Linked DNA regions of Homo sapiens. The protein of the gene in region 3 interacts with the protein of the main gene of each other region in a pairwise test. Each region holds a gene or a part of one and is shown on either strand. Other genes may lie near its edges.

The links.
Region 1: the proteins of ZNF239 (region 3) and SPRED1 interact in binary tests that used the Homo sapiens proteins (3 or more experiments, as listed by UniProt).
Region 2: the proteins of ZNF239 (region 3) and KRTAP10-6 interact in binary tests that used the Homo sapiens proteins (3 or more experiments, as listed by UniProt).
Region 4: the proteins of ZNF239 (region 3) and WFS1 interact in binary tests that used the Homo sapiens proteins (3 or more experiments, as listed by UniProt).
Region 5: the proteins of ZNF239 (region 3) and MTUS2 interact in binary tests that used the Homo sapiens proteins (3 or more experiments, as listed by UniProt).

Annotation. Positions count from the first base shown.
Region 1 is NC_000015.10:38,258,929-38,263,570, reverse strand, and holds part of SPRED1 (sprouty-related, EVH1 domain-containing protein 1), read right to left. Parts: intron 1-4,642. UniProt on the Homo sapiens protein: Tyrosine kinase substrate that inhibits growth-factor-mediated activation of MAP kinase. Negatively regulates hematopoiesis of bone marrow.
Region 2 is NC_000021.9:44,590,147-44,594,305, forward strand, and holds KRTAP10-6 (keratin-associated protein 10-6), read right to left. Parts: upstream 2,360-4,159; 5' UTR 2,339-2,359; coding exon 1,241-2,338; 3' UTR 1,122-1,240; downstream 1-1,121. UniProt on the Homo sapiens protein: In the hair cortex, hair keratin intermediate filaments are embedded in an interfilamentous matrix, consisting of hair keratin-associated proteins (KRTAP), which are essential for the formation of a rigid and resistant hair shaft through their extensive disulfide bond cross-linking with abundant cysteine residues of hair keratins.
Region 3 is NC_000010.11:43,557,132-43,561,773, forward strand, and holds part of ZNF239 (zinc finger protein 239), read right to left. Parts: intron 1,041-4,642; coding exon of another isoform or gene 949-1,040; coding exon 1-948. UniProt on the Homo sapiens protein: May be involved in transcriptional regulation.
Region 4 is NC_000004.12:6,275,927-6,280,568, reverse strand, and holds part of WFS1 (wolframin), read right to left. Parts: intron 3,119-4,642; 5' UTR 3,114-3,118; coding exon 2,882-3,113; intron 1-2,881. UniProt on the Homo sapiens protein: Participates in the regulation of cellular Ca(2+) homeostasis, at least partly, by modulating the filling state of the endoplasmic reticulum Ca(2+) store.
Region 5 is NC_000013.11:28,826,069-28,830,710, reverse strand, and holds part of MTUS2 (microtubule-associated tumor suppressor candidate 2), read right to left. Parts: intron 1-4,642. UniProt on the Homo sapiens protein: Binds microtubules. Together with MAPRE1 may target the microtubule depolymerase KIF2C to the plus-end of microtubules. May regulate the dynamics of microtubules at their growing distal tip.

The DNA.
Region 1 (4,642 bases), on a different chromosome or scaffold from region 3:
GCTTCTAAAATACTTTCCTCTCAGAGCTCTCCTACCACTTAAGCCACTTCCGTCTTTTGGCGTCTCTTCTTTCTTCTACTCTCCCTTAAAAACACTGCTGTTTCTCACTTGTCATCTTTCCATTATTACTTAATATTCTCAATGGGAAATTTTCCACTGGCCTCAACTACTATATATGCTGAAGATGTCACTATAACTCTACCCTCTTAACCTTTTTGAGAACTCAACCTATAGTTAAAGCACCTTGTTGGACACTTTCTACCTTGACATCCAGTAAGCACCCAGACTAAAAAAGATCAAAACTGGGTTATTTTCCCATTTAAAAAACCGGGTTCATCTCTATTCCCACCTTCATTTAAAAGCATTACAGCGGCCTAAATTTAAAATGTTCAAGTCATCCCACAACCTTCCTACTCCTTCCTTCACATTCAGTCAAATAATCGTTGGACATTTGAATTTCTTCTCATATGAGTCCCCAATAGTTCCAAATGCTCTATTCCCAGCTCTGTTTTGTTGTCTTACTACATTCTTCCTCATCAACTGAAGTTCATTTTCTTCTCCCTCCAGTCAACTGTCCTAAGAAGCCCTGCTTTACACAAATTGGATTATCATTCCCTCACTTAAAATACTGAGTCGCCACTGTCTACATGATGAAAACTTCACCTGGTGTCTCTCATTAAGTATCCTTACTGACTAAAGATAGTTGTGGTGAGGAGGGAAGGTAGCTCAAAGAACAAATTTTCTTTCAACTCTTCGGTGTTTCATCTATAAAATTAATGGGAACTCTGTTCAAAATTCATCTTATTACTAACCAGTCAGATAAATATTCAACTTTTCAAGAAAAACTGATTTCCAGGGGCTTCTGCCATGCTCATATTGTGTCTCATATTTTAGGCCTAGCCACCATCCCTTGCCCCACAGTTGGTGATATACAGGTAAGCACAAATCTACACTACTCACAATCTGGTCCCTCAACACTTTCCTTAACAACTCCTCCAAACAACTGTATCCAAAAAGGTATTGCCTTTCCTCCAACTTTTTCTTCTTTCTGTGCTTGTCTTCTGCCCCCTCTCTTCCTGGTTGGAATACCCTTCCCCCATTCCATGCTCTCATTCATGGCTGACTCTTAAAATGCCACTTCTTTCCTGAAGCCTTCCTTCACACAGTCACCATCCTGCCACCAACTCCCAGGTAGAATCACTTTCTCCTTGAGCCTTGAAGAACTTTATAACCAGAACACCCATCACATTTCAGAAGTATCTATTTCCCTTGTGGACTGTGATAGCGATTTTAAAGTTTTAATTATCTTTGTATCTCCAAAGCTAAGGCAAAAGTCAAGTGCCTAGTAAGCACTCATTCAAATGCCACTGAACTGAATTTCTTTAGGAAAAAGTTATTAATGGTCCCTGTTCAAATCTATCCTGAAAGTGTAAAAAGTCAATATATATAATCCAGCAACTAAAATTCTGAAATGTTTAATACTGCTTTTACATATTAAGGGGGGAAACCCCAGAACTCCCCAATCTCACAGTATAAAAATAACACAATAAAACAGTAAAAAAAAAAAAAAAAGAGTTTGGTGACTGTGCTGAAGTGAATAAAAACACTCTGAAGTGGTAAAAGTTACAGTAACTTTGAAAAAGTGGCATCAGAAAAGACACAACTCACTAAATTTTATCTAAATTTTTGGCAATCCTGCCACGGGATGCTAATATATAGAAGTCATTAAAAAACACTGTATTTGTGAATGTAATTCCTAACTACATGAACAGCTCAAGCAAAATGTGTTTAATCACATGCAATAGTATCACTAAATACTACCAGGAAAAAGAATTACATTCCACATTCCAAGTTCATAATGGCCTTTATCCAAATTATAACTCCTGTTAGAAAGGCGTGAACCCAGGAGGCGGAGCTTGCAGTGAGCCGAGATGGCGCCACTGCACTCCAGCCTGGGAGACAGAGCAAGACTCCGTCTAAAAAATAAATTAAAAAAACAAAAACAAAAACAAAAACAAATTATAACTCCTGTCATACAGATTAAATTTAGACATAAAATTATTAAACTGATATTAGGCTGAAATTTAATTCCAATTACTCTTGAATTTACTAAAGGTTATTCTTTGCTCTCCAAACACAGAAAGAAATGCCTTGCAAGGTAATTCAGAAATTTCAGACACAAGGCAATTTCCACCAGTCAATCCTACATCTGAGTAACAGAAATGATATATTAATTCAGAAGTACAAAAAAATCAGTTATGATTCTAGAACTCTTGGACTAAAATCCCAAAGTTAAGTAAATCCCACACCCTCGTTTTAAATCAGAAAAATTAAAAATCTGAAATTCTAGAGAGCAGAAAAATAATTTGTCTCTATATTTATGAACATTTACTTTATTATGGGCAGAGATTAAATGACATTTCTGGCATTTATTAAGATCGTATCATTTCTCTCCATTAATCTTCAAATGTGATAAAATGCACTGCTTTTCTCATGTTGATCCATTCTTACATCCTCAAGATAAACCCCATTTGACTGTGAGGCTTTGTTTTGTTCTAGTTCGCTGAGTGAGGTTTGATTTGCTAGTTCTTAAAAATTTGCAGCCACTATTTGTAATATTTCGTCTCCTCTATTCTCTTCTTTTGGAACTGTTAGCTGTATGTTGGAGTTACTCATCTTATCCTCATGTTTCTTACTCTTCCTATTTTATATCTCTATCTTTGGGTTCAGGCTTCTGGGCTTCTGTCCATTGCAGAAGATTTTAGCCTTTTGTGTCATGGATGTTTTTGGCAGCCTGGTAAAGCTTATGACCCCTTTCTCAGAACAATATTAGGGGCCTAAAACAACATACACAGTATTACAAAAGAAATTAATTATATTGACATAGTTATTGAAATATTTTTCATTTTGATATGGTAATAATGCGGTTCTTTATTAACACTTTAAAATATATGCTCTAGCAATAGCTTTAATAACTATAATAATTTCAAATTAGTGATGACTATAAATGGTATTTCAAGATAGCTGTAACAGCTAACAGCAATTGTGCTATAAGAAAAAAAAAATCCGTAGTTTCTATTGGTGTTATGGGTTGAACTGTGTCTCCCCCAAAATACATGTAGAAGTCCTAGCCCCATGACCTTATTAGTTAAGATGAGGTCATACTGCAGTAGGGTAGGCTCCTAATCCAATGACTGGTATCACTCAAATGAAGATAGAAACACACAGGGAGAACACCGCCATGTGATGATGAAGACATGGAATTATGCAGCTCCAAGCTCAGGAATGTGAAAGGTTCCCAACAACCACCAGAAGCAAGGAAGACAAAAGAAAGGATTCCCCTACTGGTTTTAGAGGGAACATGGCCCTGCCAACTTTTTGATTTTGGACCTTTAGTAATTGTGAGACAATAAACTTGTTGTTGCTTTTTAAGCCACCCAATTTGTAGTACGTTGTTAAAGCAGCAATAAAAACTAACACATTTGCTGTCACAAGTACCTCTAATACTGTCATAGCTTGTTAACACTTCCTTTAATTATGAATGTTCAGGTTGAGATTAGTAAGAACGTCACATTTTCCTTCAAGCCCGCAAACACTCTGAATTTTAAGAATGCTTTGTCTACAGCAACATAATACCTTAGCGTGAAATCCATTATTAATGAACTGTTTTTCATTCTGAGTATCGCAAAAACACAATCTCACAGATATGTAATAATTTTGGTTCTGGATTCTGAGATGCAGCTATGACATAATACTTATCATAAATCTAAACATTAAAGAATAACAAAATTCATTACCTGAGTTAACTTCTTAAACTAATATACAGTTATCCCCTAGTGTTACATTACTGATTTGTATAAGTGACCTAGTAAAAAACTTACTTCTGTAAGTAAAGCATAAAGACTGGTATCTTGTTAGCATATTCCTTGTAGAACTAATCAAGTTGGTGTTTAAGCCCAATAGCCTTTGTTTACTTATTCATCCACAGATGGAGGCCATACTTTTTTTCTCTTTTTTAAAATGAGGGCTGTGCATGGTGGCTCATGCCAGTAATCCCAGCCCTTTGGGAGGCCAAGGCAAGAGGATCACTTGAGCCAAGGAATTTGAGACCAGCCTGGGCAGGACCCGATCACCACAAAAAATTTTAAAATTAGCCAGGTGTGGTGGCACACCTGTCGTCCTAGCTACTTAAGAGGCACAGGTGGGAGATCACTTGAACCCAGGAGTTCAAGGCTGCAGTGAGCTATGATCATACCACTGTACTGCCCTCCAGCCTGGACAACACTGCAAGACCCTGCCTCTTTAAAATAAATAAATACATAAAAAACAAAATTGAGTAGTACAAAATTTTGTGTCATCAAAGATACATGGCTATTAAGCCCAAAGTAAGTCTTAAAAGACTATTAATATACCAATTGTTTCCAAATTTTGTATCTTAATTGTTCAAAATGCATGCTTTTACCTAATCTTCCTACCACTTCTACTCTTAAGTCTTTTGTTTAAGTATGTCAAAAATAACAATATAATAAAATTAACAAAGTCTAAATCATACACCATCAACAAAGGAAGGGCACATATGATGCTTAGTCCAAATTCTTTAATTTATAAATCAGCAAACTGAGGCCTACAGAGCCCAGGATTA
Region 2 (4,159 bases), on a different chromosome or scaffold from region 3:
GCTGGTGCTGGTCGCCTCTGGCGTTGACATGCAAGGGTCATTTGCTGGGGCAGGAGGCAGACCTGGGCTCTCAAATGCACACAGCGACCTGGCAGAAAGAGTGCAGCGGCTCGTACCACTCGCCCAACGCGGTATCGTGGACCACGTCTGAGTGCCAGAGCGGAGGGTGGCAGACAGAGCTGAGGGCTATTTGGAGAGACCTAGGAGGCTGGGGGTGTGGGGACAGGGTCCTCGGGGTCAGAGTCCAGGACCACAGGACCAGGAGGGAGCCAGGACCCTGAAAGTCTAGGCGAGGCCGCATGGGGCAGGGGGGCCCGCAGGCTTGGTTAGTGGGTGCCATGGTCCCTGCCCATCTGTGTTCTCGCCAGCGATGCCTGAGCAATGGGTATTCCAGAACCCCACGAATACTGGGCTGCTGGGCTCGAGTCCTGGGGGAGGGCGTGGTCCCCATGTCTTACTGTGGAGGAGATGAGGGCTGCAGGGATGGGCACTGTGGTCCATAGCTGGTCTCCCCAGGGGTAACAGGAGGGGTGAGGCTGCTGGCTGGAGCTAGGCCCCGGGTGGGCTACCCCAGTCCTGGGGGGCAGCCATGAGCTGGGGAGGGTGAATGTGGCTCAGGGGCCCAGAGTGCTGCCAGGGTCCACTTTGTCCCGAAACTCCTGGCCTTGGTTCCAGAGGCAGCTTTCCTAAGATGGGCCGGGGGGCCATGTGCTGGGGTTGGGGGCCCACGGGGCTAAGAGGGAGACTGGCCTTCAGGGTTCACAGAGGCCAGCACCAGAAGGCATTGCTTCCTGCCTCATCCCATGCCCCTCGGGGGTCCACAGACAGGATGAAAAGTCGACAGAGACAGAGGGGTGGAGCCAGGCCTGCTGGGGGTCAGGACTCTCCCTGCAGTCAGGGGTGGCATCACTTCCCACCTCACCCTGTGCCCCCCGGGGGTCCACAGACAGGACAGAGGTTGGTGTGAGACAGAGGCGGCTTTATTAGAACTAGAGGGGGTGCTGCCCAGGGTGGAACCAGGCCTGCTGGGGGTTAGTTCTGCAGAACTTGGGTCTGGGGGAGTAGCTGGGGTCTCTCATGCAGCCAGCATCTGGGAAGGACAGGGGGAGCATCCTGGTCCCTAAGACAAAGAGCCTGCCCCATCTTCTGAGGGTGTCAAAGCCAGAGAGGGCAGAGCTTGCTGGGGCAGCTGGGAGGTCAGCCCCTGGTGGGAAGGGACTCCGGATCACATCCAGGGCTGTCAGCAGCTGGACTTCTGGCCAGAGCAGAGGCTGTAGCAGGCAGGGCGGGAGCACATGGGGCGGCAGAGGAGGGAAACACAGGAGGCCGTGCGGCAGCAGCTGGGCTGGCAGGAGGAGGCAGAGGCACCACAGGAGGGGACGGGCACGCAGCAGGTGGACTTGCACACAGGGTGGCAGAGGAGGGACACGGAGGAGGAGGATCTGCAGCAGGAGGCGGTGCAGCAAGCCGGCTGGCAGCTAGACTGCTGGCAGCATGATGTGGAAGCCCCAGAGCAGACGGGCACACAGCAGGCGTGCTGGCAGGGGGAGGAGGTGCAGCAAGCTGGCTGGCAGCTAGACTGCTGGCAGCATGAAGAGGAATCCTCAGAGCAGGTGGGCACACAGCACACAGGCACGCAGCAGACGGGCACGCAGCAGGCCTGCTGGCAGGGGGAGGAGGTGCAGCAAGTTGGCTGGCAGCTAGACTGCTGGCAGCATGAGGGTGTGCAGGAGCTGGTGCAGCCTGATTGGCAGGGGCTGGGCTCACAGACCGCCTGGCAGCAGGGGCTGGACACACAGCTCACACAGCTAGACTGCTGGCAGCACGAAGAGGAAATCCCAGAGCAGACAGGCTTGCAGCAGACGGGCACACAGCAGGCCTGCTGGCAGGGGGAGGAGGTGCAGCAAGCTGACTGGCAGCTAGACTGCTGGCAGCATGAAGAATCCCCACAGCAGACGGACACACAGCACACAGGCTTGCAGCAGACAGTCTTGCAGCAGACGGGCACGCAGCAGGCCTGCTGGCAGGGGGAGGAGGCACAGCAAGCCAGCTGGCAGCTAGACTGCTGGCAGCACGAGGGCGTGCAGGAGCTGGTGCAGCCTGATTGGCAGGGGCTGGGCTCACAGGTCACTGGGCAGCAGGGGCTGGACACACGGCTCACTGGGGTGCAGACCAGGCTCAGGCAGGGGGCCGGGGCGCAGCAGGGGGGCTCACAGCAGCTCTCTGGGCAGTCGTCCACCTGCCAGGAGTCGGAGCAAGAGTCACAGGAACCAGGAAGGCAGACGCGGCTGCCGTAGCTCAGGTCGCTGGAGCAGACGGACATGGTGGACGCGGCCATGCTGGGGTTGAACTGGTGGAGGGTGAGGGAGTGAGCCTGTGAGGTGCTGAGGCTCTCGGGCTTTTATTCCACCTGGCCTTGTTGTCCCCGGGCCCACAGCTTCCCCTTCCGTGTTGCCGAGAGCTGGAGTCTGCCGGGATTAGGGGTGTTTGTTCGCCCGTGATGTGGGCCAGCTCATAAATCTCCCATCACATCTGGGCTGTGTCCCATCCCATGTGGATCCCTGGCGGCAGGAATTGGGCGGGGCCTGGTCCCAGCTGGGTTCGGGGAGCTGGGAGAGCCACAGGTCGCGGCATCGTCCACCCCTGGCCCCAGCAGCCCCGGGACACAGAGTCCCTCTGCAGGAAGCCGGCCTCAGGAAGTGTCCTTGTGGTGAAAACCCCTCATCCAGCGTGGTCCTTCCCCCATCACCGGACACAGGACTGTGGCCATCTTCTGAGGGACAACCTGGGGCCCATGAGCCTTCATTGACCTGCCCTGGGCCATGGCATGGTGGGGGTGGGGGGCAGCTGTAACTGTGCCCAGACCTCTTGGCTTTGAGCTCTGGACGACTTCTCATCCCCACAGCCTCTTCACCTCCGGCCCTGTTTCGTGTCCACCTCGTCTTTGTGTTTTGGAGGCAGCAGGACCTGTGTGTTCCAGGGCAAGGACGGTGGGCTTGGCCCCTCCCTGCTTGGACAGCATGACAGCCTTCTGGGCTGTGGTTTTGGGTTCTGAACCTGCAGAGTAACCGTGCTGAGCAGCGGGCGGTCAGCAGCCCTCGTCCCCGCCTGGGGTGGCTCCTCTGTGTGCTCTGCTTCTCCGAGGCTGCCCGTCAGCCCCCACCCAGCCTCCTGCTGGGCCCATTTCCCAGCCCTGTCTTCCAAGCCCTGTGCCAGGCCTCTTAGTGTCACCACCTTAAAATTAAGGGACATCTGTCCAAAGAACCCGCACAGAAGACACAAAATGGGTCCATGAGAAGTTGATCTCACTGCAAACCCATTGCCAGTGTAAACGAAACATAAAATCCTAAGCCCCTCAACTGACTAAATGGATCCCATCTTGCCCACGGGGACCCCCGAAAAACTGCGTTCCTGGCCATGACAGGAAGGGAGGTCAGACACGCCTCGTTACACCCCCTCCCTTTAGGGTTTCGACACAACCACTACCCAGCACTAAAGTTAAAATAGAGACCGTAAGACCCACAGAGCAGACTCTGGCAATAAGATATCAAATTACAAACAGGACCTCAGGCCGCGCCAGGCAAGGGACAAGCCGCGTGCCCTACACTGAGAGGACGGACTCTGCTCTCACGCCACAGCTGCTGTTTTTCTACAGTGGCTAAACACGCACTGGCCCCGCGATGAGGATGAGCAAGGTTCAAACGACTGCAGCTCATCCACCAGCAGATGCCAACTGACCACGTTCCACAGCCATGACCACAGCTCTGACTGGGCAGGAGACTGACTTCAGGAACCTCCTCCTGATAAGGGACCCCCAACCATGGACTGGCTCCAGCCGGTTTACAGAGGCTGTGCACTGGAGTGCCTTTGTGTCCTGAGAAGACTTCTGAGGTTTAGGGCCTCATTGCGACCCATTGACATGATAAGACTCCACCCTGTAAGAAGTACATTTCAAGTGGTCCGTATTCAGAAAACAGGCCCTGGCAAGTCCAGGCAGCTCCCTTGCAGATGTGACAAGCCACACAGTACAGACATCTGGGAAGAGTGATAAGACTCACAGAAGTCAGAGGGGAGGAAGAAAAAGTGACGGATGGCTAACACATAAAAGGAAAGAAACTTTTGCCATTGAGAAATCAAATGTAAAGTGGGGAAGGGGACA
Region 3 (4,642 bases):
CTCTCCAGTGTGGACTCGCTGGTGGATGTGCAGTTTGGAGCTCTGACTAAAGCCCTTCCCACACTTGTCACATTTATAAGGTTTTTCGCCTGTATGGACGGCATGATGGATGAGCAGACTTGAGCTCCTGGTGAAGCCCTTCCCACACTTGTCACACTTATAAGGCTTCTCATCTGTGTGGACTGCCTGATGGATAAGCAGACTCGAGCTCCTTGTGAAGCCCTTCCCACATTGCTCACATTTGTAGGGTTTTTCTTCTGTGTGGTCTCTCTGATGAAGTAGTAGCTCTGAGCTTTGACTGAAGTTCTTACCACACTGACTACATTCGTATTGTTTCTCTGCAGTGTGGATTTTCTCATATGGATGACCATCTGGGCTGGTGTTAAGTATTTTCCCACAGTTATTATGGTCACAGGGTTTCTCCTCTGTATGAGCTCTCTGCTGACTACAACTGACCACCTGTGATTTCCATCCATGAATGTCTTTGCAGTTACAGTCAATGGGATCCAAAGATTCTTTTAACTGGCCATTCTGGCAAGTTGCCTCACCATTTAACAATGGCGAGGCCAGTTCTTGTCCATCAGACACCAGTTTAACTTGAAGGTTCTCTGAACAACTTTCCCCCTTTATCACTTTTCTCTCAGTGCTTTCTTCCATTACAAAGAGACGTCTGCTTTCCTGATGATCCTGAGGCTCATTCTTACAGAACTTCACTGAAGAGTCTTGTGTGTCTATTTGGCTTGAGACTTTCAAAGGCAAATATGTTTCACTTTCAATGTTTTCGAAACAACCACTTTGAAGAGTCATCACACTGTCCCTGTTTCTGGAAATAGGAGAAGATGCTTCTCCCCACTGTTGACAAGGGGAAATATCTAGTTCAGGCTCCCCATCCACTTCCCCTCGATGATTCACAATACAATCCTGACTTCCAGTAATTGTACTGGCCATGCCTTCCAAAACTAGCCAGGAGGAAAGCTCATGTAACAGATCCTGAAGTGTTTTCTGCTGAAGATTCTCCACAGAATTTTCATTCAAGTCTCCTAGGGAACAAAGACAATTCAGTGGTAAGAACAAAGGGTAGACTTCAAGATTTCAGAGTGAGAGTGCCTAAGGCCTGAAGTCTTAGTAACTAGGAAAAAGTTCAGCTTGTCTTTATAGTCATGTCCTTTGGGTTAAGGTCAGGTACATTTGTATCTGGGTACAAGACAGAAATTTTCTCTTGGCTTTTAAGCATAGCCAAGGAAAGTCTTCCCTAACTAATCCTATAGAAGGCTGTAAGTCCTATATCCTTGCTAACAATAACATTTCATCTCATCTCACTTCATTTTTTTTTTTGAGACAGAGTTTCACTCTGCTGCCCAGGCTGGAGTGCCGTGGTGTGATCTGGTCTCACTGTAGCCTCCACCTCCCAGGTTCAAGCAATTTTCCCACCTCAGCCTCCCAAGTAGCTGGGATTATAGGCACATGCCATCATGCCCAGCTAATTTTTGTATTTTTAGTAGAGGTGTGGTTTTTCCATGTTGACCAGGCTGGCCTCCAACTCCTGGCCTCAAGTGATCCATCCGCGTCAGCCTCCCAAAGTGCTGGGATTACAGGCATGAGTCACCACACCCGGCCTACTTTCCTTTAAGTAAATTTGCATTTAATTGGTATTCTGCTTTCATAGGTGTGGGGAATACAAGGAAGAAAATATAAATCCTTTTGCTTAACAAGCTAAAGCTTCCTGGGAAGACAAATACACCAAATAATGATAATACTAAGTGAGTGGTGTAGATGAATGTATAGTACAATACAGTACAAGAGATGTATGCCTAACCAGCCACGAAAGCACAGCAGAGGAACACTCAACTCAGACCCTGGTGTTTAGGAAGATTTCTGGGAGAAAATGACAGGAAAAACAAAAAACAAACAAAAAAAAGGAAGTGAAATGTGGAGAGAAAATATGACATGTTAAAGAAAACTACAAGCGGCTTCTTACGAAGGAGATAAAAACAGTAAGAGTGGTGAAGAATGTGCCACGGAGGGGAAGTAAGAGGACAGAGCAAAGGGCTTAGTGTCTAATAATAAGGACCTTGGGGCTAAACCCTGAAGGGATTGAAAACTATTAAAGAATTTTAATTCAGAGTGAAATGACTGACTTTGTGACAATAAACACCACTGGAAAGCAAGACTTTAGGTAGCGAGACGGCTGCCATAGCAAATCAGAAGAAAAACGGTAAGGATGATAGTTGTGGAGAGAATAGGAGAAATTCATTCTAGATCATGTGATGATAAACTAAACCTAGAAGAGAAAGGAGGCACCAAGCCTGTTCCTTGGGATTCCTGCCTGAGTGACGGTATGGTGGTGCTATATAATCAGATAGGAAATGCAACAGGAAGAGGCTGAAGTAGGGAAGGCAGCAGAACTGCCTTGTATAATCTGTGGTGTTGGTGGAACATTCTTGCAGTACTGGTCCGTAAGCTGTGAGATATATATAGGTCTGGAACTCCTGTGAGAGAACTGTGCTAGGAATACAGAGTTTAGACTTACTGGTATATTAAAAAACAAAAACAAAAACAAAACCCTCCCCGAGACTTAAACAATTAGAGTGAATAGCCTAATATTACACTGAAATGACAAGAAATCCATAATACTCTTGGGAAAACAGAAAGGCTGATATCATCAGAATAAAAACATTGAGGAACTCCTAAATGATAAGGAGCAGATGGATTAGGAGTGATGGAGGAACTAGGGGAAAAAAATGTACAGCTCAAATTATGTATAACAGAAGGCTTCTTCGTGGGTAAAACATCCTAAGAAATCATAGAAATTCAATTACCAAACTCAGAATCAATAATTACAAAGTAAGGGAGCACTGACCCCATTTCTCTGGAGTCTATGTCTCAGAAAATAATAAACAATGATAAAGTAAGACATTTCCTAATTCAACTTAGGCATTCCTAACAGCTGTGCTAGTTTTTGCTGTTAGCAGCACTCTCCCAGCCCACCCTCTTCCTCTTAGAAATAGAAATATTGGATGGCTAGCAGCAGTGCCCTCATATAAAGCCTCAAGAATAAAATAAATGATCTGCCAAAGAAAGACTGCTAATAATATTAACTGGACTGAAGAGAGAAGCAGAGGTTGAGGTAATGTTGAACGTACACAATGACCAATGGATTAAGGTACAAAAAAGAAGTAATTGACAACATAAGTGCCCAGGATAAAACTTCAAGCTAAACTTTTTAATGGGAGTTCTGACAAGGAAGATAGCCCAGCGCTGGAAATAAAGAAGCAGGGCATGCCCCAGATAACTCAGTGGCAAAAGAGGTGGACTTAAAAAATGGCCTACACCACTGTGCAGGGGAGTACAGGGAATAGGAGGCCCACCTGAGGCTCAGCCCTAGCCCTTAGCCCATCCGTGGGGCCAGTTTACTGCCTGGGTAGTCCCCTTGCCCATGTATCCAGCTACAAAACAATTCAAATTTTTTCTTTTTCCCAAAATAAAACCTCAGCTAGCTCTGCCAACTGTCAAAAAAAAAAAAAAAAAAAAAAAAAAGGCCTATAATATCCACCATCTGGATTCTTATTACCTCCCTCCCTAGCCCAATCAGCAGAAGTGTCCCCTAAAGTAAAACACATATGCATGCCAAAGTGGGTCAAGCATGGGTTGAGGACACACTCCAATATCATGCTGAGAACACAAGAATTTTGAAAAAATATATAAGGAGACCAACAGAATTTAAAAGGTACATAATTAAAATCCCAGAAAAACTGGAGAGGATATCACATTTAAACACAATCTAATAATAAAATATAAACATATTGCTATGAAAAATAATAATTCTAAATAAAATGACTGAAGATGATGATAGGTTATGTCACTTGTTTCCTAGATATGTGTCAGGCTGTTTTAGTCAAACGCCTGCAATCTAGATGAGTTAAATAGTAAAATGAACACATGGCTAAGATGGAAGATTGAGGAATTCTCCAAGAATGCAAATGAAAAGACAGACAAATAGAAAGATAAAAGTAAAAGCCCATCTTCAAGGAGCTGCATGAGGACAGTGAAGATGGAACACAGGGAGAGAAAATGATCAAAGAAATAATAACAAAAAAATGTTTCCTAGAATTCAAGATTCAGGGCCCAATAAATGCTAAAAAATGGTATGTAAAAAGACCCCAAACTAAACATACTCTTTTAAACCTCAGGACTTCAAGGAAAAAACAAACAAACAAACAAACAAACAAACAAAGAAACAGAAAATGCTAAAAGCTTCCAAACAGAAAAGCCAGGTTATGTGCAAATAAATGAGAATTATATTGACACTGAACAACTAATTGGCAATATTGCAAATCTTCAATATCTTCAAATTTTGGGTTAAAAGTCATTGTGAAATTATAATTTTTACCCAGCCAATTAACCATTTCAGTGGGAGGAAAAAATAGACACTCTTTCAGACACGAAAAGATTCAATTACTAAAACAATCATTCAGGAATATACTATAGCAAAATTTTTTAAAATTTAAGAAAAAGGATACATGCTGCAAGAAATAGCAGTAAGCCAAGAAGTCAATACAATACATAATTAGGCCAGGCATGGTGGTTCATGTCTGTAATCCCAGCATTTTGGGAGGTTGAGGTGAGGTGATTGCTTGAGCTC
Region 4 (4,642 bases), on a different chromosome or scaffold from region 3:
CAGGGCTAAACAGAACAGGCCCAGAACAGGCTCTCTGCCAGGGCGTGGACTCGCACAGCCGTGTCACGGTGGCTGAGTGAGGCTTGGTGTCAACTCTACCTCTCTGTGCCTGCTGGGTCACCTGGGACCAGGTGTGACAAGCCCAGCTTTATTCTCTTGTTGAGCAGAACAACAGATCCCCCCAGGGCTGGAGACAACACTGAGGTGATCACAGGACTCACCACAGCTGCCTGTGAAGAAACGGCCCCTGCCCATCAGCCCTGGGGCAGCCACCGACAGGCAGGTGCCGGCCCTGGCCCACTGGCACATCACTTGGGCTGCTGTCAAAAATCAGGACAGACAACACCTCTCAGCACGTGGGCATCCACGCTCCACACAGGACACAGTTTCCCCTCTCAGGGCTGCCATGAGGAGTCCCGCCCTGGCACAGGGACGCCCAAGAGCCTCACAACTCCCTGCAGTCTCCTTTCTAGCCGGAGTCACTGTTTCCTTTACCTGTCTGGGCCCAGGAGCCCCTGAGCTTCCAAGCCCCGACCCGTTGGCAGTGGTTCCCCAGGTGGCAGGTGACTTGCCAAGGCCACAGAGCCAGGATGGGAAGGAAGTGTGGGGCTCCAGCCCAGTGACGTTTCTGAAGCAGCCCCTCCCCAGCCTTGCTGAATGAAGGGCTGAAAAGGGGGTCAGTTCCTCAGGGAGGCAACCAGAGAAGGGCAACCCCAAGGCTGCTCTTCTCCTGTTTCCCAAGTGTACAGGCCAAGGAGCAGCTCAGATGGGGCTCCGACGATGCCTCCTCCAGGCAGTCTTCCTGATGCCCTGAAGAGTGACCAGGCCCTCCTGGGGTGCCCCTAGGGGACTGCAATGTGGGTTGTCCCCCGCGCTACATGAGCCCCAGAATGTAGTTCCTTGTTCACTCCTGTCTCCCATATTGCTCAGGGCTCCCGGAGGGCAGGACTGAGCCTTCACTCCTGTCACCAGGGCCTGGCCAGGCACTGATCTAGGGACAGGCCAACCTGCTCTGTGCACTTCTCTGAGCCTGGGACATGGGGATCCCTGGGCGCAGATGACCTGAGGCCCATAGTGAGCACAGGCTCCACGGTATGTTTAAATCTCCCCTCCACCCTTCACCAACCACGGGACGCTGGGTCATCTACTTAAGCCCTCTATCCCTCGGTTTCCCATCTGAAAAACAGGGCAGCAGCAGAGCCTGCCTCCCAGGGCTGTTAAAGAGGCAAGTGGGCTAATGCCCTAAAAAGATGCCTAGCTCGGGGAAGTGTCAGTTAAATAGCTACCCTTGTTGTTACCTATTGGTATTTCAACTGATGCTCACCCACCTATGTTGGCTGGATGGGGGAGCTAAATAACAGATTCTCGCAGCAGCTGCTACTGGCAGGGACCCTGGGCCCTGCCCTCCCTGCGGCCACTGGGCATGCAGGGCCAGGCCTGCTTTGGCCACATCAGTGACCAGTGACTGGGAGACGGGATGCCCACTGCCCCCAGCTGCAGGCCCAGTGGTGGGGACTGGGCTGTCAGGCGGCGCCCAGGGCTTGCTCTTCACCACCCCCACATTGGAGACCGAAGCCAAACAAACCACAGCTGCTTCCTGACTCTTCTTATCTGAAACACACAGTCTTGGACTCTGTCCTTTGCGGGCTGTTCTCATTACCCAGATTGAAACCAAGCTTCCGAGCCCTGGTATCTGTTCCCCTGAAGCCGTGAGGCTGGGCCCAAATCCCGGGGTCAGGCCCTCATCCGCCCAGAGGCCTCCAAAACAAAGCAGAGGAGCACAGTGATCTTTTAAGGAGATGCAAAGACAAACAGGGCCCAGGGCTGCAGTGAGTTTCCAAGGGCACGCCCAGCATAAGTGGTACATGGGAGCCTCAGCGCGCTGCGACCACAGCAGGGAGGCCCCACGGCCCTGCCAGTGGGGTGACTGGGACAAGAAGGAAACCTGGACCACTCGAGCACCTCGTCTCTCACCCGCTGGGTCTCTTGGGCAAGTCACCTAGACTCGGTGTCTCAGTTTCCCCTCTCAGGACTGCCATGAGGAGTCCTGCAGGCACATGGAAAAGGCTGGTGTACACAGCAGGCACTCACCATGGGTCTGGGGCTTCTGCATGGGCAGGAGGGGCAGTGATGAGCTGGGACTGAGCCTCCCTGGCAGCGGCCTCTCTAGCAAAAGTGAAGGCTGACCGAGGCCTGAGTCAGCTGGAGAAGGTGCCCAGGGGCCGGACTCCCCTGGCTCACACCCACCACCCTCACATCACCACCCAGGAACCAACAAGCCTGTCAGCTCTGCCTGTGAACACCAAGGGCCTCAGCTCTGCTTTGAACACCCAGGGCCTCAGTCAGCTCGGCCTGTGAAGACCAAGGGCCTCAGTCAGCTCTGCCTGTGAACACCCAGGGCCCCAGCATCCCGCCTCAGGATGGAGGTGAAGGACGCCCGTCCCTCACAAGTCTCCCTCAGGGAGAGGGGAAACTCAGCACCAAGGGCTTCGCCCGCATGTGGCCTCACTCCCGAGAGTGTGGCTGTCACCTCTGGCCTGCCACCCTAGTTGGTTACAGAGGGCCCGTGAATTTACTCCACATGTTTGGACGCTGTTGCAAATGGAAGCTGTGAAGTGCTGCAGAGGCCCTGGGAAGAGAAGGACTGCAGAGGAGTGGGGGCACCAGCACCACCTCGAGTGGGTGCCACAAAGGTGACAGGTGCAAGGCTCTGAGGAGGTGGGTAGCCCCACTGGATGGACGCCTGTGCACAGCATGGGAGCTGCACAATGCTGAACTGCAGAGGACCTGGCGGGGGGACCCTCCAGGGGTGGCTGAACCCCGTTCCCACCCAGCTATCCCTGAACATCCCCAGCCTGGGCTTCCCAGCCTGCTCCCTTACCGGTGCCGTCTGCTCTTTCCCGGCTCCTGGTATGCTGGGCCTGGGGTTCAGCGGGGGCCGCTGCGTCTCTAACACCAGGGCCAGGGCCAGCCTGGGGTCCGGGTGCTCGGGGCCTTTCGCTCCTCTCCTGCTCCAACGAGGCTGTGGCATTGAGTCGGGAACGCGCCTGGGGCTGCGGTGCTGGCGGGGGCTGTGGGCAGGAGGGGCCCAGCGGAGCAGTGTTGGAGTCCATCCTGCCTGGAAGAAAAGTCAAGGTCAGGCACATCCAGCACCGGCAGAGCCCGCTCTGGCACTTAGTGTCTGCTGGAGACAGAAAAGCAGAGGGAGGCAGGTGGGAGCTGCCAGACACTCCATACAGGATCTCGCTGACACTCAGTACAGTCCCCATGGGCCAGCACCGCTTCCAGGGAGGAAACCATGGGAGGACACTCACCCACGTGACTCTACAGATGGCATGGCACTTACAATCTCAGACCTGCACATGCCGAGGCCTGGAGTCCCTGCCTCACTGGGCATGAGCCACACAACCCTGGCCTTCCCTCATCCAAGAAACGGGGATGATGATAGCAACACCCAGAGCCCACCCATGTGGAGCCTGGCTGCAGGGGGCTGAATTGGGCCCCACATCATGTGCCCACCAATGTCTGTGAATGTGCCCTTATTTGGAAAAACAGGTCTTTGAAGATGTATTTAAGGATCTTGAAATGAGATCAGCCTGGAGTAGGGAAGCCCTGGCTCCAAGAGCTGATGGCCTATAGGAAGAGAAGTGTAACAGAGCCATGCGGAGACGGGTGACAGTGGCCAAGGAGCAGGAGGACCACTGGCCACTGCCAGAAGCTGGACAGAGGCGAGGAACTGAGCCTCCCTCAGAGCCTCCAGGAGGGACCCACCCTGCCCACACCTTGACTTCAGACTTCTGCCTCCAGAACCATCAGAGAACAAACCTCTGTTGTTTTAAGCCACCAAGTTTCCAGTAGTTTCTTACGGAAGCCCTAGAAAACTAATACGCTGGTACTGAGTAAAGTTAAGTAAATATGAGAGGGGAAGGGAGCTGGGGAGGGGAGAAGAGGGCAGGGGAGAGAAGAGAGGGAGCCAAATGGGTGGAGCTGGGATTCATACCCAGATCTGCCGCTCCACAGCCCCCACCCCAGGCCCAAGCCACAGCACCGAAGTCAGAGGACTGATGCCCCAGAAACCAACACAGAGAGTAAAAAGCAAACTAAGGCAAACAGTGCGGTGGGGGCATCAGAAGAGACTAGAGTGAGCAGAGATCCCGTGACCCGTGTCACGCCGGAGCAAGGGCTTTATTTTATTCAACAGAGGCCCTCACATGCTGCTTAGCAACATGGAAAAACACCACCATCCCTGTAATGAAGGACAACCACCGGCCACAGACACAGAGCTGAAAGCGCTGCAGGATCCCGAGCCCCGGACCCGGATGGGCCCTGGATGAGCGGCGTTAGGGGTGGGATGCAAACCCCTGGCACTGCTGGACCTTGAACCTGCTGCTGTGTGAGGCTGTGGAAACTTTTCCTCAGATTCCCAAATGACCCTCCCAAGCTCAGGGCCACAGCCATCCTCTGAGGCACAGAGCAGGGAGAGGCTGGTAACAGAGAGTCTCGCTCCCAGCCCCAAGCTGCCGCAGCGCTGTACTCCTGGCTCTGTGCCCACCAGCTGTGTGGTCCTGAGCAGCCCACATCCCGCTCTGCACCTCAGCCTCCTCATCTGAAAATGGGGACGGGGCAACTGTGAGGACCAGTG
Region 5 (4,642 bases), on a different chromosome or scaffold from region 3:
CTTTTCCTTTTGAGATTTCAATTATACATATGTTGGTATTCATAATGGTGTCCCATAAATCTGATGTTCTGTTCATTTCTCTTCATTCCTTTGACTTTCTGTTCCTCATAGTATATAATTTCAATTGATTTATTTTCAAGTTTGCCGATTCTTTCTTCTGCTAGTTCAAATCTGTTGATGAGCCTCTCTAGTAAATTTTTTCATTTCAATCATTGTACTTTTCAATTCCATAATTTCTATTTTGTTCCTTTTTTAACAATTTCCCCCTTTATTGATATTCTCTATTTGAAGAGACATCATTTTTCTACTTTAATTCTTCAGACAAGGTTTCCTTCAGCTCTTCGAACACATTTATAATAGCTAATTTAAAATGTTTGTCTACTAAGTCCAGTATCTGGACTTTCTCAGGGATACTTTTGTTTTTCCTGTTATGGCCCATATGCTACTGCTTGTGTGTGTGGAAATTTTATGTTGAAAACTGGATTTAAAAAAATATGGCAACCTAGAAATAAGATTCCACTCTGCATAAAGGTTTGTTGTTATATTTGTTGCTACTATTGTTTCTATTGCTATTTCCCAGACTAATTATGTAAAGTCTACTTTGTTTATCATGTGCAGCTGCTGAAGTCTAGCTTCAGTGGTCAGCTAATGACGGTACAGAGATTTCTGTCTTTGCTGAGGGATTACGCGTGTTGGGGGGTGGGGTACATGCTTTTAACACTCCAGCAGGTAGTTTACAACTCTTAGTCTTCTCTTCCTACTTTACTTATGCAAAGCCTCATTGTTAGTCTGAGATGACAGATTAAGGCCTTATTAAGTATTTCCTGGACATACAGACATGGGACTTCTAGATTCCAAAGACTACATCAAAGGTTTTTAAAGCCCCCATAGGTAGCTCCTTTTCCAATTTTTCCTTTTAAGTTTTTTGGTTAACCTCTTGTTAACCCCAACTGGTGTCACTGCCTCAGGCAGCTGAGAGGTTAAACAATTACTGCTGATTGTTTTCCAAAAATGCCACAGGGCTCTGCAAAACAAGCTTTGAGAATGGAGTTTTTTAAGAAGCTTCTAGAGCAATCATATAGTGACAATTTTCTGAGACTGGGGATCTTAGAGGGCTCTAAACCTGTTTTGTCCCTTTCAGTGGCTTCTAGGCTATTAGTTATTGTTTGTTTTTTTTTTTAGACGGAGTCCTACTCTGTCATTCAGGCTGGAGTTCAGTGGCGCAATCTCAGCTCACTGCAACCTCCACCTCCCGGGTTCAAGCGATTCTCCTGCCTCAGCCTCCCAAGTAGCTGAGATTACATACACACACCACCATGCCTGGCTAATTTTTTTTTTTGTACTTTTAGGAGAGACAGCATTTCACCTTGTTGGCCAGGCTGGTCTCAAACTCCTGACCTCAGGTGACCCACCTGTCTCAGCCTCTCTAAGTGCTAGGATTACAGGTGTGAGCCACTGTGCCTGACTTAGGCTATTAGTTTTGAAGGCTACAATGGAGCTGCGGATGAAGGAATGGGAATAAGGTAAGTTTAAAAATGACAAAGTTCACTGTTCTTACTGAGATTCAGTCCTTTTTCTTGAATAAATATTCCTCAGATTGTTATAAACCCTTCGTTAATTTCCACCATTCTAAAATGGTTTATTTTGATATTTTTGCCAGTGCTTTCATTGTTATTGTGCAGGAGAGACTTTTCAGAATGTCTTTACTCCAATAATTCAGATGTGTTCCAAGATAAATAATATATTAATGCAATATTTTTAGGAAATCAAAATTAATGTAAAAAATCCATGATGAACGAAATATTAAAACTTTATAGATAGGATCAGTAACAGTGCTATTACAAACCAAACTGGAGCCTGACACAAAAGGAAAACTCAGTAATACTGATCCTGTCTTCCTTTAAAATTTTGATATTTTGTTCATTATGGATTTTTTGCATTAATCTTGATTTTCTAAAATGCATAAAATATTTATTTGTATTACTAAGTGTCTTGGTGTCCCTTAAATTTTGTACCTGAGGCAAGTGCTCAACTAGCCTCTCTCTACTGCTGACCCTGGAGTGTTGCAGGAAGTCAGGGACCCCGAACGGAGGGACCGGCTGAAGCCATGGCAGAAGAACATAAATTGTAAAGATTTCATGGACATTTATTAGTTCCCCAAATTAATAATTTTATAATTTCTTACACCTGTCTTTACTGCAATCTCTGAAGATAAATTGTGAAGATTTCATGGCCATTTATCACTTCCCCAATCAATGCTCTTGTGATTTCCTATGCCTGTCTTTACTTTAATTGCTTAATCCTGTCATCTTCATAAGCTGAGGATGAATGTCACCTCAGGACCCTGTGATGATTGTGTTAACTGCACAAATTGTTTAAACAATATGAAATCTGGGTACCTTGAAAAAAGAACAGGATAACAGCAATGTTGAGGGAACAAGGGAGATAACCTTAAAGTCTGGCTGCCTGTGGGCTTGGCAGAACAGAGCCATATTTCTCTTCTTTCAAGAGCAAATAGGAGAAATATCGCTGAATTCTTTTTCTCAGCAAGGAACACCCCTGAGAAAGAGAATGCATTCCCAAGGGGAGGTCTCTGAAATGGCCACTTTGGGAACGTCTGTCTTTTACGGTTGTGGATAAGCGGTGAAATAAGCCCCAGTCTCCCGTAGCGCTCCCAGGCTTATTAAGACGAGGAAATTCCCGCCTAATAAATTTTGGTCAGACTAGTTGTCTGCTCTCAAACCCTGTCTCCTGATAAGATGTTATCAATGACAATGCATGCCCAAAACTTCATTAGCGATTTTAATTTCACCCCGGTCCTGTGATCTCACCCTGCCTCCATTTGCCATGTGATATTTTATTACCTTGTGAAGCATGTGATCTCTGTGACCCACACACTATTCGTACACTCCCTCCCCTTTTGAAAATCACTAATAAAAACTTGCTGGTTTTGCGGCTTGAGGGGCATCACGGAACCTGCCAACATGTGATGTCTCCCCCAGACACCCAGCTCTAAAATTTCTCTCTTTTGTACTATTTCCCTTTATTTCTCAGACCGGCCAATACTTAGGGAAAATAGAAAAGGACCCACGTCAAATATTGGGGGCTGAATTTCCCCCGATACTGAAGAAATGTGGCTGCAGGTCACATTCCTGCTTTTATTGTTATTCTCTAAACTGAGATATTAATGCTAACTCACATTTATATTTTATTCCAATATCCTGGGCCATTATCAAAATTATAATCCTAAAATTTAGCAGAAAAATTTCAGTATAAAGTTTGGGGGTAGAGGACAATGTATTTATATTAAAATAACTTCAAAATCTGCTAGTAGTGGCAAATTAGCTCACTCAATATAAAACTAATTACTACCTGCCAGTTAAACTAATACAATGTGGATTTAAAAAAAAAGAATACTTGCTAGAGTCTTCAGAAAACTAAACCTAATGTTTGGCATGTTCACTGTACAAACTTCCAATGATACCATGTAACACTAATGGAAAATGCATCAGGCTTAGAAACATCAATTTCAACCAAAATTATTCTGCTACATGATTTCAATTCTCAAATTAACTTTCCCTGAAATAAACTGATAGTAATATAAGAATTAGAAGCAAAAAAATGTGTTTGGCTTAATATGTGGCAACATTTCCAACCTGAGAACACAATTATTTGTGTGTAGAAAAATACTGCCTGTCTTGAGAAGCTATTTTCAATGAGTAATGTCAAACAGCTTAGCACAAAGATAATTAATTCAGGATGATTTGAGATTACTTCTCCCGTATTTACAGAGCTAGTGTTCATATTAAATTTTTAGACTAGTACTCTGCAGTAGCAATCTGATGAAGTGTGGAAAATAAACTTCCCTATTAAGTGTTATTTGCTTCTGCTGTTTTATTATCATTTATTGTAATCCAAGGCTATATATTCCTGGCTTTCTCTATTGTACTTTTGGGGAAAAGCACTTAAAATCAGTGTATCAATATCAGCCTGTTTCTGGACAAATGTATTTGCCTTATTACAGTCTTCATAGACGCTAATGCATTATGTTGGCTTTTCATTTCTGCAAGGTGAGTCAAACTTTCTAAAGTCAGTATCAGGCCATCATCAATACTGGTTTGGCCCTAATCACACACACTGCTGGCTTATCTATAATGACTGTGTGTAAACACTCTTTTGTTTTTCTATGGGAACTGAACATACTGGTACAATGGGTCTACAGTAAACAGAGTAAAAAGACTAATAAGGAGAGGACCTCAGAGATCATATAGCCTATCCTCTCTGGGACAAGGGAAGTACATTTGGCTGAAATACAATAATCTTGTTTTTAAAATCTCTCAACAGATAAACAGTCTCGTCTTCTATCTAGTCTGATAATAAAAAATAGAAATAAAGAGACCAAAGTAATCATTTTTTATCTATTCATTCATCTAACCATGTATTTTAAATTTATTGATTTATTTACTTATTTAGCAGATGATATGACCATCTATCTGGAAAATCCAAGGAAAATAACCACAAAACAAGGTTATAATTAATAAGAGCTTGAAAAGTGCTTGGTTACATTACATTTTAGAATAGCTTTCTATATATCAATTATTGGTTATATGTAATACAACCAACATATAGAATATATACAACC